2 linked regions of the Homo sapiens genome follow. The protein of the gene in region 2 purifies or fractionates together with the protein of the main gene of each other region. This does not show direct contact. Each region holds a gene or a part of one and is shown on either strand. Other genes may lie near its edges.

Region 1 (7,034 bases), on a different chromosome or scaffold from region 2:
CTCAGATACTTGAGAAAGAAAAGCGAAAGACCCAATGAATAAACGATATGTTTGCTTCCAGAAGGCTAAATGGCTTCCTAATATGCTATCTGAAAAAACTTCACAGTAACTTGATGATATGGTTTGGATGTCTGTCACCCACAAATCTCATCTTTAAATGTGATTCCCAAAGTTGGAGGTGGGGCCTGGTGAGGGGTGATCGGGCAGATCCCTCACGAATGGTTTACCACCATAGCCTTGGTGATAAATGAGTTTTTGCGAGATCTGGTTGTTTACAGGAGTCTAGGACCTCCCCCTTCTCTCTTCTGCTACTGCCCTTGTCATGTGATGCACTGGCTCCCCCTTTGCCTTCCACAATGATTGTAAGATTCCTGAGGCCCTCACTGGAAGGACATGTTGGCACTTTGCTTCCTGTATGGCCTGCAAAATGGTGATTCAACTGAACCTCTTTTCTTTATAAATTACCCAGTCTCAGCTATTACTTTATGGTAACACAAAAAGAGCCTTATGTGCTTGAATAGAGAAAAATAGTAACAGAACTGAATAATCACACTGTAAATTCCACAATCACACTGTGTAGTAAGCTAAAAATATGTGTGTACATATATGTCTTAATATATATTTTCCTGGCTATAAGTGTTGTTTATGTTGTTAGCAGCAATTTCCTTTGTTAAAAAATAACAATTTCCCTCATTACAGTAATGTTAATCTGAATCTTATTGGTTTGTGGTTTTATTCGTTTCTAATTATAAATTTTTCAGTTTTATCATTGTCTGTGAATTAAAAGCAAGTAATTAAAGAAAAATTAATCTATAGAAAAAAATCAAAGCCGGTATTTCAGTATGCAAGGTTCTCAGCAGATCGATTTCAGCTTCACTTCTCTGATCTGACTTCTGATTACTTCCCTACTTGATGCCCCACTACAGCCCCACGGGGTTGCTCACCATGCCCTGAACTTGCTTCATGTTTTCTCACTCTGTGTTTGTTTATTTTATTACCCACATTAGCAATCTTAGCTATAACATCTTGCTTAAGCCTTATTTCCTGCATGAAATCTTTTCAGACAAATCTAGCTCAGAAGGATCTCACCATTTCTTATCTCTTTCATTATTTCATATTCCACTCCCTTGGCAATTAATTATGTTTTATATCATGACATCTGTATTATTTATTGCACTGTGAACTCCCATATATCTTCTAATTTGGGGTTGCTTACCTTATCTTCACAACTAGATATTGGACACTGTCAGAACAAAACAGTCTTCATATTTTTCTTGGTAATAAGTTTTGTGTTGCTAGCTAGGAGACTCAGACTGACATAGCAGTTACTTAGGACCCTTGATATAAACAATATTCAAAGTTATGAAGTACTTTTTTTTAAAGGCAGATTCTGTCTCTAAGGTCATTTAAAACTTCTTTGGAATAAAATATTTTGGAAGAAAATATTGCAGATCCTTATACTGTACCTTGACAACTTTCAAAATGCCTTCATTGGTTTGTGGATCTGTTTGAATATCGAACCAATTCCCATCATTTCCAGAGAGAATTAAATATTGAGCCAACCAGTTATCAGTGCCTTCTTCATCAAGATCAATTGCTTGTAATCGTATCAGTTCCGAACTTAAACAATTCTCTTCAATACTGGCTGAGTACTAAAATGCAAGGATCAATTTTGTAGTCAATGAATTTTCAAAAGAAGAAACGTACTTAAAACACATTATTATTATTTAAAATACTAACAACAAACTATGTCGATGATTTTTGCACCATTATTAAATGCCCATAGTCCAATCAGGAGAATAAGAATAAAATGATTATAAGATAATAAAACTGACATTCATGTGCTGTATGTAAAATCAAGGTCAAATTAGCACTTTGTTCCTTTCTCTTTTATTTATTTATTTATTTTTGCTTATTGTTAATTTTCTTTATTTATTCTTTTCTTTTAGATAGAGGACCAGATTTTTTTCTGTAAAGGGCTGAATAGTAAATATATTAGATATTGTGGGCCAGAGAATTGGTGTTGCAACCCCTCACGTCTGCTGTTGCAGCACAAAGCCCCCATAGACAATATGTAAAGGCATGAGGACAGCTATGCTCTCCAATAACACGTTTTTTGTTTTGTTTTTTTGTTTTTTTTTTTAAACCGAAACAGACAGCAAGCCAGATTTGGCCCTGCTAGTGTGGATTTTATGCTTCTTTATGCTTAGAGATGAAAATGGAAGTTGAGACTGTCTGGGACTCTAGTAGAATTCATTCAGCAAATCATGAGGCATATACAAAAACATTAATGTTGCTATGTTATTCCCAGAGTTAGATCAACAGATTTCTGTGTTTCTGTGAATAGAGTATACAGAATAGATAGTTCGTTGCTTTCACAGAGAAGGCTTGTTTGGAGTAGTGAGTCAAAGACAAACATACAATTTGAAGGTATATTAGTATACATAAGAAATTCCAAAGTTTCTATAACAAAGTTGAGTATGTCCACACATAGGACAGAACCAGGCTCATGAGCCAGCATGATTGATTATTGACACTTATGCAAATTGATTATTGACACTTATGGAAAAAGGAAGATAAGAATACAAACTTACTGAAGTTTTCTCTAAGGTGGGGAAATTATCGTTGACGTCTAAAACCTTGATTCTACAGTCACACTCAGAAGACAGTCCATCTGCAGCTCCATCCCGATCTGAGCCTCTCACAACCAGGTTGTACATACTGTGTTGCTTAATCAAGATGAAAAAGAACGTAAGACTTAGGTTTTGTCTTGAATAGAATCCAATGCATTCAATGCCATTATTTCTCTACTCTTTTATTTACATATCCAATGAAATTTATATAATTGAGCTTTTAATTTTTATTAAAAATGGATTATTTTTCTTCCCTCCTTTATATTGGAGTAAGGGTACACATGGATCATTTTATCTTTGTCTTTTCAAAATTGAATTTTTTAGTTCTTGTTCATTCACAGAAGGCTTTACCTCTCTGTCCAAGAAACTGGACATGGTGCAGACTTCTCCAGTGTACCTATTCAGAATGAACATGGGTGCACCTGATGGCTCCTGAGAGACGATCTTGTAGGCAATTTTAGAATTCAGATGATTTTCTTCATCTGCATCTGTGGCACATAACTTTACTACCAATGTATCTAGAAATAGAAATGGAGGTGGAGAATGGTTGGGACTCTTAGAATAAATTCAGCAAATCATTAGGCATAAGAAGACAGAGTGGTTGGCCTTCTCCTGAATTCTCTCTGTTTGAGTTTTCCATGGGAATATAGTACCATAACTTTCAGCTCTACCAGTGATTAAAAAAAATGTGGTTTGCTTTATAAAACCCTTTACTGTTTTAAAAGTACTTGCACTCCTTAAATGATTAAATACTAAATTAGTGGCTAAACATAGTTCTCTTTAAAGTACGAAAAAGAAGTTCAATAGATTCTTTATCATATAGCTGAATAAACAGATTTTTATCTGTTTTATTTTTTGCCATGGTCTTGTGAAATCATTTAAAAATGCTTAATTAAGGAAAATTATAGTTTAATTAAATGCAACATTATAATTATGTATTGAACACCTATATTCTTAATTGCCACTTTTCCAGAAAGCAGATAATTACTCTTGGTTGCATTGGAAGATAGCATTTTACCAAACAGTCACAAATTTATAATTATTGAAAAGAAGACTTGTCCATAGCAATATAAGAAGTTCCTAATTACTCATAGGTAGAAAGAACAGGTATCTTAGGCAAATCCCCAAGGATGTCAATCTACAGGACAGACTTTTCAGAATTGTCAGGTCCCTGATGTTCTTTTGCTTCCTAGGCAGGGAGACTTGGTTGTGGGTTTCACCTTCTCTTCCTTCACCAGTGTTGTTTTGAGGTGTGTTGATGAGGAAGCAAAGATGGACTTCGGAGTCTCTCTTTGTGTTGGCTCTCCTAGGCAAAATCTCTTTGCCTCTCTATGGGAGGACTATCCTAGTTCAAAAAAAAATTTTGTGTTTATCTGCCTTTTTTCCTGAAATTTATTTTTCCTATTATTTCCCCCCAAATTTGTTTAGAGGTATATGGGCAGACATAGATTTGAAAGGGAAAGGGACAACAGGGGTTTGGGGAACAAACTGATATTCATGTGCTGTATGTAAAATCAAGGTCAGAAGGCAAAGGGAGAGGAGAGATAGGAAAGTAGCCATATAAGAAAAGCATAAGAGTAGGAAGGAAAGAAGTTCAGGAGAATTAATATAAAGGAAAGACAGAGGGTATTAGAACTGGAAATGGAATTAAGTGGAATGGAAAGAAATGAAAGAAAATGAGAGAATAGAATGTAGTTTGCTATGTAGTCTGTGAAGATCAATGATTACCCTTAGTGATTGATCTGATGGGTACAATTGCGTGTGCTTCCACCATCACGCTCTACCTGGTGTGGGTCAGCCAAACATTTTGAGTAAGAGACCAGAACAGAGCCTTCTTAAACATTCCTGGTTTATTCCTCAGTTTGCTCGCTTGGATTTAGTTCTTCATGAGCCCAGTAGCAATCTTTAAGCAAGGTGCTAAGCACCTGCTAAATCCCTGTAGGGACCTTCCGCAAGTAAGAAGATATTTTATTTTATCATTTTAGACATGATTTCTTTTTCTAGCTCAGTTATAAATTAAAATATGTGGGGTTTATTCAAAATACAAGTGTGGCTTTTTCTGTCCTTTACATTTCCTGTATGTCAGTCCTCTAAAGCTTTTGACCAAGAGAAGTAGATATGCTGTGACGTAGAGAAGGAATGTCATTCTACTTACTGGCATCACTATTTTCTTCAATGCTGGCTGTGTATACACTTTGCGAAAAGACTGGAGCGTTATCATTTATGTCCATAACTTTGACTCTAAGCTCAAGAGGCCTTTCTAAATCTTCACCCCGTGAATTCAGAGCCCGGCAATAGATCTGTGGAAAATTGGAAAAAAGCCATCTTTTTCCACCAAAGGAATTTTAGTAACATGCTTGAAAATATATCAGAAAATAGGCAAAGAAACAATTTTTTCCAGTGAATTCAGACTGTAGTACAGTCAAATAATTTAAATATGATCAGGACACTTGACTACATGTACATGCAACATACCAGAGAATCCTGAACTATAAACTTTTATTTTCACACTCTTTCCATTCCTTCAAGTCTTCTATTTGGGTTCAGTCTGCCATGTTTTATCAAAAGTAATCCATTATCTTAAGATAATATTTTTTGAAAAAGGGAAGAAAACTAATATGAACAAATCAAAACATATGGCTATGACTTACCAAGAAAAGTGGAGTTATTTCTCTGTCTACCACTGAAGTGATGTTAATTTCCCCAGTGCGAGGATTAATGGTGAATACCCCATATGGTGGTCGATCAATCCCTACTCCAGAAATCCGGTATGTTATCTTCTGGTTCGATTCGCAGTCTGATCGAATCTATAAGAAAAATAGCTAGGATTGTGATCCAGTTTAGAGCAGATAATGCTTAAGAGTGTAGTGGAATAAGAAGGGAGTGGGTTTCTTTACCAAATGGGCTTTGGATTGAAACCTGACACCATGACTTAGTCCTGTGTGACCCTGGAAAATTTACTTAACTTTGCCCAGATCAGCTTACAGTGGGGATAATATCACACAGATTTGTTGTGGGAATTACATGAGGTAATGTGTATAACATACACACTTGGTGCTAGGTTTGTTGTTAATAACACATTGTTCAATTCTCTGATTTTTTAGCATACGCAGAAATAGCTTCACAAAAGAAATTACAACATTTACTATTTTTTAAAAATAACTTGTGTCATATTAATAAGTATCCTACCTAAGCTGGAGTCTGAGATTTAGTCAAAATGGTAGATAAGTTGAGAATATCAGAAAACTATAATGGTTAGAGATATTTGTAATAATTTTATAAATGTAAACATACTGCATCACTTTTCTGCCAAATAGATTTTATGGCAAATATTCTGCCACACAGATTTTGCTTTAGTAGCTTTATTACCTATTGCTGATAAATTTAAACTGAAACAATTTTGAAATCTCACCTATATACTAACGATAAGAGCATTCAGTAAAATAGTAAGATTTTTTACCCACACATTCACAGTCAAATAAAGACTGCTGGAAATAGAACTTTGGTTAGCTTAACTCTAATCCAAAGGCCCTTTTTACATAGAAGAAAACTCAAGAACCTCCCAAAATGCAGAGAAAAAGAAAAGAATATGCAATATAAGTGGAATAACATAAAGCAATTACTGAGTTGAATGGAAATAATAATTTAAAAGCGTCCCTCCAATTTGAAAACATCTGAGAGAGAATACATCTGTTTTCTTGAGCTGAGGTTGTATCTGTAACACCACTGCTGATGCTTACTATGTTTTTAATATAAAGCTGGAAGGAGGGAATTCTGCAGATCACTTTACTGTTCAGGATCAAGATGTCCAGAAAGAGTGAATGAAGCTATTAATGTGGATCCCATCCTTCCTGGATCAATTTATTACACATTCTTTAACTCTCCTTCCTTTTCAGTAGGCATTATTTGTGAAAGTCTTATAAGACTCTCTTATTTTCTGGATGTAGAGATCTGGTGGGAACTTTTGATACTATCCTTACTTTCCTGGAGTTAATTCATCTAGTGCAGTAAACTTGGCTTGACTTTCTGGAGGGCCAGGCTTCAGACTGTCACTATGTGAATACGTTTCCTATGACATTGACAGGCAATAATGAGCAGTACACAAATGGATGAACAAAGCCCAGTTGTGCTGGAGATCCAGCCCTTTCTTCTAGAATCACTTGCCATTGACTGCCTGCCCCACGTCAGCCTCCCTGCACATGATATTCAAATCAGTGGCTCAGCAACTGGAGCAAATGACCACATTCTGTCTTCTTAAATAACTGTGGAGCAGTGAAGCCTGCAAATCTTGGAGATATTTGAAAGCTTCCCTGCTCTGCAAAAGCATTTGTCATCAGATTGCTTCATCACTTACTTTGGCAATGGGGTTCCTCTTCGAGTTGTCCTCTCCTTCTCGACAGG
Region 2 (7,327 bases):
CTGGAGCATCTGTGGAAGTTCCAGGAAAGCGCTGGGGGAGGTGGCATGCCCGCTGCCTAATTCCCCCGTGGACCCGCCGCCTTAGGTTTCTCAGAAGCAGGGCTGAGCAGCTTGGAGCAGTGGGCTCCGTGGGAGCTCCCGGACTCCCCTAGCTCCCACCTCATCAGTGAGGGAAGAAGTGCTCCTTCTGCCCTCGGCAGAGGGGAGTCAGGGACCCAGGCTGCCCCTCTCAACTGCAATGGTACCTCCTCCCGGCTCTGGCCCAGCAATGCTACTCTCCAAACCTTCCTAGACATAAGGTTTCCTTTTAAACCAGGACACCCATGCTGTGACTGTTACCCAGAGCTTCATTTCTTGTTTGTTTGTTTGTTTAGGTAGATCATAGCTGCTCAGTTTTTTCCTCCGGAGGTTACGGACTACATAGACTTCTTTTCTTGGCTCCAGACTGATGGTGGTGGGTGGGTGGGGCGGGGGGTATGAAATACAGAATGTGGCCCGTCTACATCGCCATCACTTTATTGTACTGTCACCCTTAATTTAACTATAAATACTACGGTGGGGGCTAGTCGCGGGCGGCCTCGGGCTGCTGGGCTGTGCGCGCCCTGACCCCAGACGCCGACCCTCCCGGCTCTGTACACTATTTACAGCTCCTCGTTCCTCTTTCTCGACCCCCTCCCGCAAGGCAGCGCGTGTGCAAGAAAGTAGCATCGTCTGTCTGTGCAAGTCCTTCGAGTTAGGTAAGTAATACGGGCAAGTGTCCCGCGGCCGTCAGCTGTCCGAGTCCAAATCGCTTTTACCTTCCTCTTCCCTCTTCTCCGGTGACGCCTTCGACGACGACGTCTTGTTCCACTTCTCCGCGTTCTCCGACTCCTCTGATGAGGACCGCTTCTGCCGCCTCCATTTGGCGCGGCGGTTCTTAAACCAGACCTGTTGCGCAACGGAGGACAAAACAGTTCAGATCAAAGGCGCGCTTCCCCCAGTCCCGGGGCACCCGGGGAGCTTGGTGTGGCGGCGGGACACCCCGCGCAGGCCAACAAAAGGAGGGGAGCCGCTCGCTCCCGCTTCCGCGTTTTCATTCAACTTCCTGGGCCTAAAGCGCCCTCCAGCAGCCTGCGGGCCGCCATCGGGATGTTTTTAAAGTGCGGGGAGAGCCAAGCAGGGCTGGGCAAACCCGACTGGGGCCCCACCTCGCGGGGAAGGACCGCTAGGCGCCCACGGCAGGCCCCGGCGCCTACCTCCACTTTCTCCTCGCGGAGGTGCACTTTCCGGGCCAGCTGCTCGCGCGTGCCCACGTCCGGGTACTTGGTCTCCTGGAAGAGGTTCTCGAGAGCTTCGAGCTGCTCGTCAGTGAAGATGGTGCGGTGCCGCCGCTTCCGCCGACAGTGCAGCTGGTTGAGAAGCTGCAGCTCGGTGCGCGACAGCGTGCCCACGTTCATGTAGGGCAGCATCTGGTGCGGTACCGGGGACACCAGCACCGAACCGGGGCCCTCGTAGCCTGCGACAGAGTGGGGCGCACGGTCAGCCGCCCGCCCTCGCCACCGCACGCATGCACGCCCGCCAGCCCCCGACCCTCTTCCACTTAGAAGTCGTCTGCAAGGGGATGCTGAGAATTGGGGGTGCACGGGAATCAGGGGTGCAGGGAAAAGGAGGAGGCGTGTTAGAGCATCCATCCGCACACCCGCCAAAGCCAGTAAGAGAATTCAAAACAAAACAAAACAAAACAAAACCCAGTTTCCCCGGGCAGGCACTGAATTCCAGTTTTCGCGAACTCTGGCCAAAAGTTTGCAGCAAGAAGTTTGCAAACTCCTGCGCCCGATCGGCAAAAGCGGAGGGGGGAGTTGCAAGAGGAGCAAAGTTTGAGGAAGGTGAATTAACCAACCGGCTCCATGGGCTAAGGACCGCAGTGGGCGGCAGAGGCCGGAGCGAGCGCGACCCTACCTGGGGGCGTCGGGACGCAGGAGCACTGCTGGGCGCCCAGCGGCGGCACGGCCCCGCAGCAGGCCGGGCCCACGGGCGCCGCCTGCACGTGCAGCTGCCCGTAGAAGTAGTTGTTGTAGCCGAGGCGGGAGCCGCTGACCGCGGCCGGGAGGCCCGCGCCGCCGGGGGCCACGGGGCGCGGGTAGAAGGCGCCATAGTCCGAGGAGGCGCCGCCGCTGGCGCCGTAGAGCGAGTCCCCGTGCAGGGCCGGGAAGACGACGGGAGCCGCCGCGCTGTGCGCCACCGGCAACACCGAGTCCTTGCAGCGCGGCCGGGCGGCTAGGATGTTGTCGATGCTGAACATGCTGGCGGGCATCCCCGAGCCCCGCGTCGGGACCGGGGGGCGGCGGGAACGCGCCGAGGACAGAGCCTTAAAGTGGGGGGGTCCACTCTCCTCCAGCCGCCGACCAAACCGAAAGAGAGCGCCGGCGAGCGCGCAGCCCTGCGCCCCTCCCCGCCCCCTGCGTCCGCTCTCCCTCCTCCCGCCCTCCCCTAGCCGCAGCGTTCGCTGAACTCAACCCGCGGGTAGGACGGAGCTCAGACCAGCTGAACCTCTTGTTGGTTTTATACTGAGTCGACGTCATCCTGGATTTAGTTCCTGGTAATATGCAGATGACAAACAGAACCAGATTTGGCCCTTTCTTTTCCTTTGGGTGGGGGAAGAGGGTTGGGGGGAGGGGGAGAGGTGCCAAGGGGAGGGGGTTACAAGGCCTGAAAAGAGATTGTGGATTGCGAATTAATGAAATTAACCTAATCTTTTCCATTCGGCAGCCGGGCCGCGGGCCGGCCGAGCTGGGCGGGCGGCCTAATTGCCTTGGTTAATCTCATTAATTCCTTTGTGCCGCCGCAGTTAACAACTCCCTCCGCCCGAGCTCTCCACCCCCACCCTTTTTTCTCAGATTGGGTCCTATTATTGGGTGCGATTTCCTCTGCCTGTAGCTCAAATTCATTGTGGACGATTTTACTTTGGGGCTACTTTTTTCCCCCTTTCGGAATTGGTTTTGTTTTAGAAAATGTGAGGGGCTGCATCCCCTCTCAAGCAGGATTGAAAATTCCACCACTCCTCCGCGCCCCCACGTACTCACCGCCTGATTTACCTCTTTTTTAAATCTTGAGTTTCTCTCCCGAATGGAACTTGTTAACCCCCCCAAAAAACTTTTGGTTTTGTAAAATCCAAATTTTGTAAAGGCAAAAACGACTAAAGGAGGGGTGCATCGTGCTTCTTAAAAAGATTTTTTTTTCCAGCCACTCTGGGTCTGAAAACTACCATGGCAGTCCCTAGGTCCTACACAGCGAAGACCAAATTCAGCCGCTCTTTAAAATTCGCCACCAAGAGTTGCAGTCTGAAGCGGTGCTTCTAGCTGCTCCCAGCGTGGGTGTCGGTAGTTTTTGTGCTTTTAAAAAATTAGTTTTGGAAATGTGGTGCCTTCTCTCCCAAACTATTTTTTTGATTTTCAATCCAGATGGGGTCTTTGGGACTTCCCTATCTTCTTCCCCAATAATTGGGTCGCATTTTTCCTTACGACCTGCTGGCTGCCGGTAGGCCTGCCCTTCCGCCTGGCAGGCCCAGAGTGGATTCCCTGGGCCGCAGTGGCCTGGACGATGGCCGGGTCTGATAGCGGCAGGCGGCCGCGATGATTTGCGGGATTCTCGGCATGGCACGGCCAGCCTGCCCGAGCCACGGGAGGCGCAGCCAGCCCACCACTCACGGCAAGCAGGCGGCCGAGCGCCCTTCGAGAAGGTAGGCGACGGTACGCGCGGAACAAAAGCAGTCCCCCAGATCCTGTGGACCGGGTGCAAGCTCCCGGCTTGCAACTCAGGCCACTCCAGGGGAAGGGGCAGTACCCGACCCAGGCGATACCCCCGAGAGCCGGAGAGGGAGATGGGGTTGCGGGAGACCTCGGGTTTCCTGAAGGAAGTCCGCCTTTAACTCACACCTATTTTTCGCGATTTCTCTCAGGCTAATTAACCAAGGGACCCCGCAAAGTTGTCTGAAGTCGCCGCCGTAAGGCTAAGTAAGTGGGCTGCCCACTCCCCGGCTCAGGGGCAAAGGGGAAAGCCCACTTGTCAATTTCTGTTCGGGTTTCAAAGAGCCATTGCACGGAGGTTTAGTCCTGTCCGAGGGCACTACTGTGGCGGCGCGCAGAAGCGGCCCAGTGGAGCCAGGCGGCGACGTTTCTCCTCCTAGGCCTCCCAGCGTGGACCTCTGTGTCCTCACGGCCACCAGCTTGTGGCCTGAGAGTTGCTCCTTCCAGTGCTGCGCAAACTAGAGGTGGTTGTAAATGGGGATTAGGACATGACGGAGATGGGTCTCAATTTGGGGAAGTGAATAGAGTTTTCCTTTTTTTCTTTTTTAACAATAAAAACAAAGAGGGAGTGTGACCCTCCCCTTAGAGAGGTCAGGTCTAGGGTAAGAAGTGAGGCACCTTCCATCTCCCACTGACTAGGATGAAGTCTTTTTTATTGTTGTTCCGTTCTCAGAGACTTAAGTCACCATGCTCCAGGGCAGATACTCCCCCACCAATCTTTCCCAGGTTTAAAGCTACAGGGCAGTTGATGGACGACAACTAGAGGCTGCAACTTATCAGTGACTGCCTGCGTTTGTGTTGGAGGCTGGGTGTGCGCTGCGGTGCGCGTGTGAGTGGATCTTTTAAGACCTTTGTCTGAGCCGGGCAGAGGCACAAGTGCCACCTGACGCTTGGGGCAGATTCCTCGTCCTGTTCTTGCAAAGATGCCAAATCAGGAGAGTGTCAAGATTTCAACCGCAGACCTAAAAAAAGTGTCTCCATGTTTTTAAAAGTATCAGACAACCACCTCCACACACCCCTCCGTCTCCCCTTCCACCTGGAACATTGTTCTTTTTAATAACCAGGTTTAGCAAACTGCTATACTGCGCCTGTGCTTTCCTGCAGCCCTCCGCTGTACCAGCTGAGCCCTGTACAGAATCTGAGCGTCAGAGTTGCAGACCCAACCTTGCCACCTTGCAAATCATCCCTTCTCTGGAGGCCTCAGGATTTTAGTTGATCAAACCAACACCAACATTCATTGGGTCCCTTTGCAACCCTAACATTTAATGAGACTTGGTAATTGTCATCCGTTCGCCAAGGAGGTTGGGGATGAACTTGGGGGCATTTTCTTGTTTATTTTTCATTGAGACAAAGGAGTGTGCTGTCCCCACCTCCGCCCCCAGACAAGGACAGGGTTCCTACATCAGCTGGGTCTAAAATAAGGAAAAGCGAGTGCTGCCGCAGAGGGGACTTTCCGGGAAGGGGGTCACAGGAACCCCAAGGCCACACAGCTCCAGACACTCTGCCGGAGCTCTAGGGGAGCTCACCCCTGCGCGGCGGGACCTCCCCCATCGGGTTGCCCCTTCAATCTGCAGCCGCGCGGAGGCAGGCCCCGGGAAAGGCAGTCGGCGCTCGGTGCTCGCACTGCGCCTCGGCGGGCGGAAACTCACAAGTGTCCTCAACGTGCTAAACAAACCATCAGGGCCCCGCATCGCCTGGCGCAATTGGAATAACAAATGCGACGCACGCAAATTGTCCACCTCGTGTTGCTAAGCGATTGTTTGTCGGCCCCGCACGCACAGCTCAGCATGGGAGGACCGCGAGCGTCCAGAGGCAGCCGGCGAGCGCTTAGGTCGGAAATGCAGTAAACATGCCGCTGATTTTCCCTATTATCACCCAAACACGATTTCACACAAAGCAATCACCACGCAGAAGTCTATGAAAATGTGTTTGTTGAGGAGTCACTCGCCCCAGTAATAGTCCTCATTTTTAAGATATTAAAGAATAGCTCAGCGGATTCCACATGCATAAGGTCTATTTGCCGTTCGGCATCTGTCACGGCGCTTTTGCACTGCGGTCATCACTAAATTGATTCATAGAGTGTAGATTAAATTGCTTCTCTGATTTAAAACAGTGTCCAACTTTGGAGTATGCGTGTGAGTATCTTCTCCCGCCCCAAGGTATTTTTGTCAGGGAGAAAACTGTCGCCCCACTATCCTTACACCCCATTCCGCATAACTGTAAAAAAATAATGCATCTTCGACCCCAACTTCTTACGGTTCGTTTCAGGAACTTTCTTAATTCTCTCCGTCTCCTGCCCGGCCACAGAGCAGAGTTCACAATCGGATGCGTTTAAGTCGGATTTTTCGTGTCATGTGCAAAAAGCCGGTGTGTCCTTTTCAAGGTACGGAGCCCTCATCGGAGGGCGCATTAGCGGGGTCAGAGGAATTAGGAGCAATGCGCAGAGCCCCCTGCAGCCCGCGTGCTGCGCCGAGACCTCAGCCGTCCTCACTGAGCGGAATGGTTGTGTTGTTTGTATTGGGACTTTTAAAAAATCCAGTCTCAAAGCTAAGTGCTCAAACCCCGTTCCATGGCTCTGCTGCTTTCTGGAGGACATCTCCGGTAGCCCCAGGGGATTGTCCGTGTGAGGTTGGGTGGGTGGAGTAGAGCCAGAGGCGCAAATGCCTCCTGGCTAAGGGGCAGCGCGCATTAGAGCTGGGTCTCCTGCTTTCGGAGCGGAGGGCGTAAGGGAGCTTTCTAGCTGATTTTTTGCTAGAAGTTTTCCAACGCTCCAAATAAAAGCACCCGATCCCCTAAGGACGAAATAATCAAGGTGTTAGGGAAGCTCAACAGAAGAGAAGAGACGAGAAGAGAAGAGAAGAGAAGAAGGGGCTATCGAAAAATGACGTGTTCCCAAGGCCTTAGAAAAATAAATAAATAAATAAATAAATAAATAAATAGCTTGGACTTTCCGGGGTTGCAGAAATCCGATTTCAGCCGGGCTATTTACCAAAATTTGTTTCAAAATGACTGCACCTTTGCTTTTGCAAGTCACAGAATGCAAATGACGATAATTTGTTCTCAGAAGAAGTTTCTCTTGAAATGATTAGCAAAGTCAGTCATTTGAAAATTAGAACGAAGCCCTTCGCTAACTGATATCTGCTTCTAAAGTTTTCATTCATGTAAACCTCATTAATGAAGATCTTTTATTTAAACGTCAAGGGGATTTGAAATTTAGAGTAAATTATGAAGCTTGTATGTCTAGCCAAGTCATGGGTCAAATGCATTTGTGAAAAACTGCTAAAGAGCATATGGTTTTGAATTTTTCTACAATGACTAGTGTTTAAATAAATTGCTTGTACTGCTTAACTTCATGTGTAATTTTGACAGAAATTGGCCTATAGCCTTTTGATATGTAAACATTTCAGCCTTTTATGCGGTATAAAAAAGACACTTGCTTTTTAGGATCAGCCCAGGCAGTCACCCTGTAATTCAGAAAGCTGGTACCTACCATTACAATCTTGCTAGATTTCAACTTTCAAGTGGCAGCCTCAGGGGGAGAA

The links.
Region 1: the proteins of GSC (region 2) and DSG4 purify together in Homo sapiens (affinity purification with mass spectrometry; 2 studies listed by BioGRID and IntAct, with this or other methods). This does not show direct contact.

The regions. Positions count from the first base shown.
Region 1 is NC_000018.10:31,386,773-31,393,806, reverse strand, and holds part of DSG4 (desmoglein-4 isoform 2 preproprotein), read right to left. Parts: coding exon 6,988-7,034; intron 5,441-6,987; coding exon 5,285-5,440; intron 4,934-5,284; coding exon 4,789-4,933; intron 3,152-4,788; coding exon 2,985-3,151; intron 2,730-2,984; coding exon 2,595-2,729; intron 1,653-2,594; coding exon 1,467-1,652; intron 1-1,466.
Region 2 is NC_000014.9:94,767,723-94,775,049, forward strand, and holds GSC (homeobox protein goosecoid), read right to left. Parts: upstream 2,392-7,327; 5' UTR 2,294-2,391; coding exon 1,939-2,293; intron 1,496-1,938; coding exon 1,236-1,495; intron 928-1,235; coding exon 769-927; 3' UTR 501-768; downstream 1-500. UniProt on the Homo sapiens protein: Regulates chordin (CHRD). May play a role in spatial programing within discrete embryonic fields or lineage compartments during organogenesis.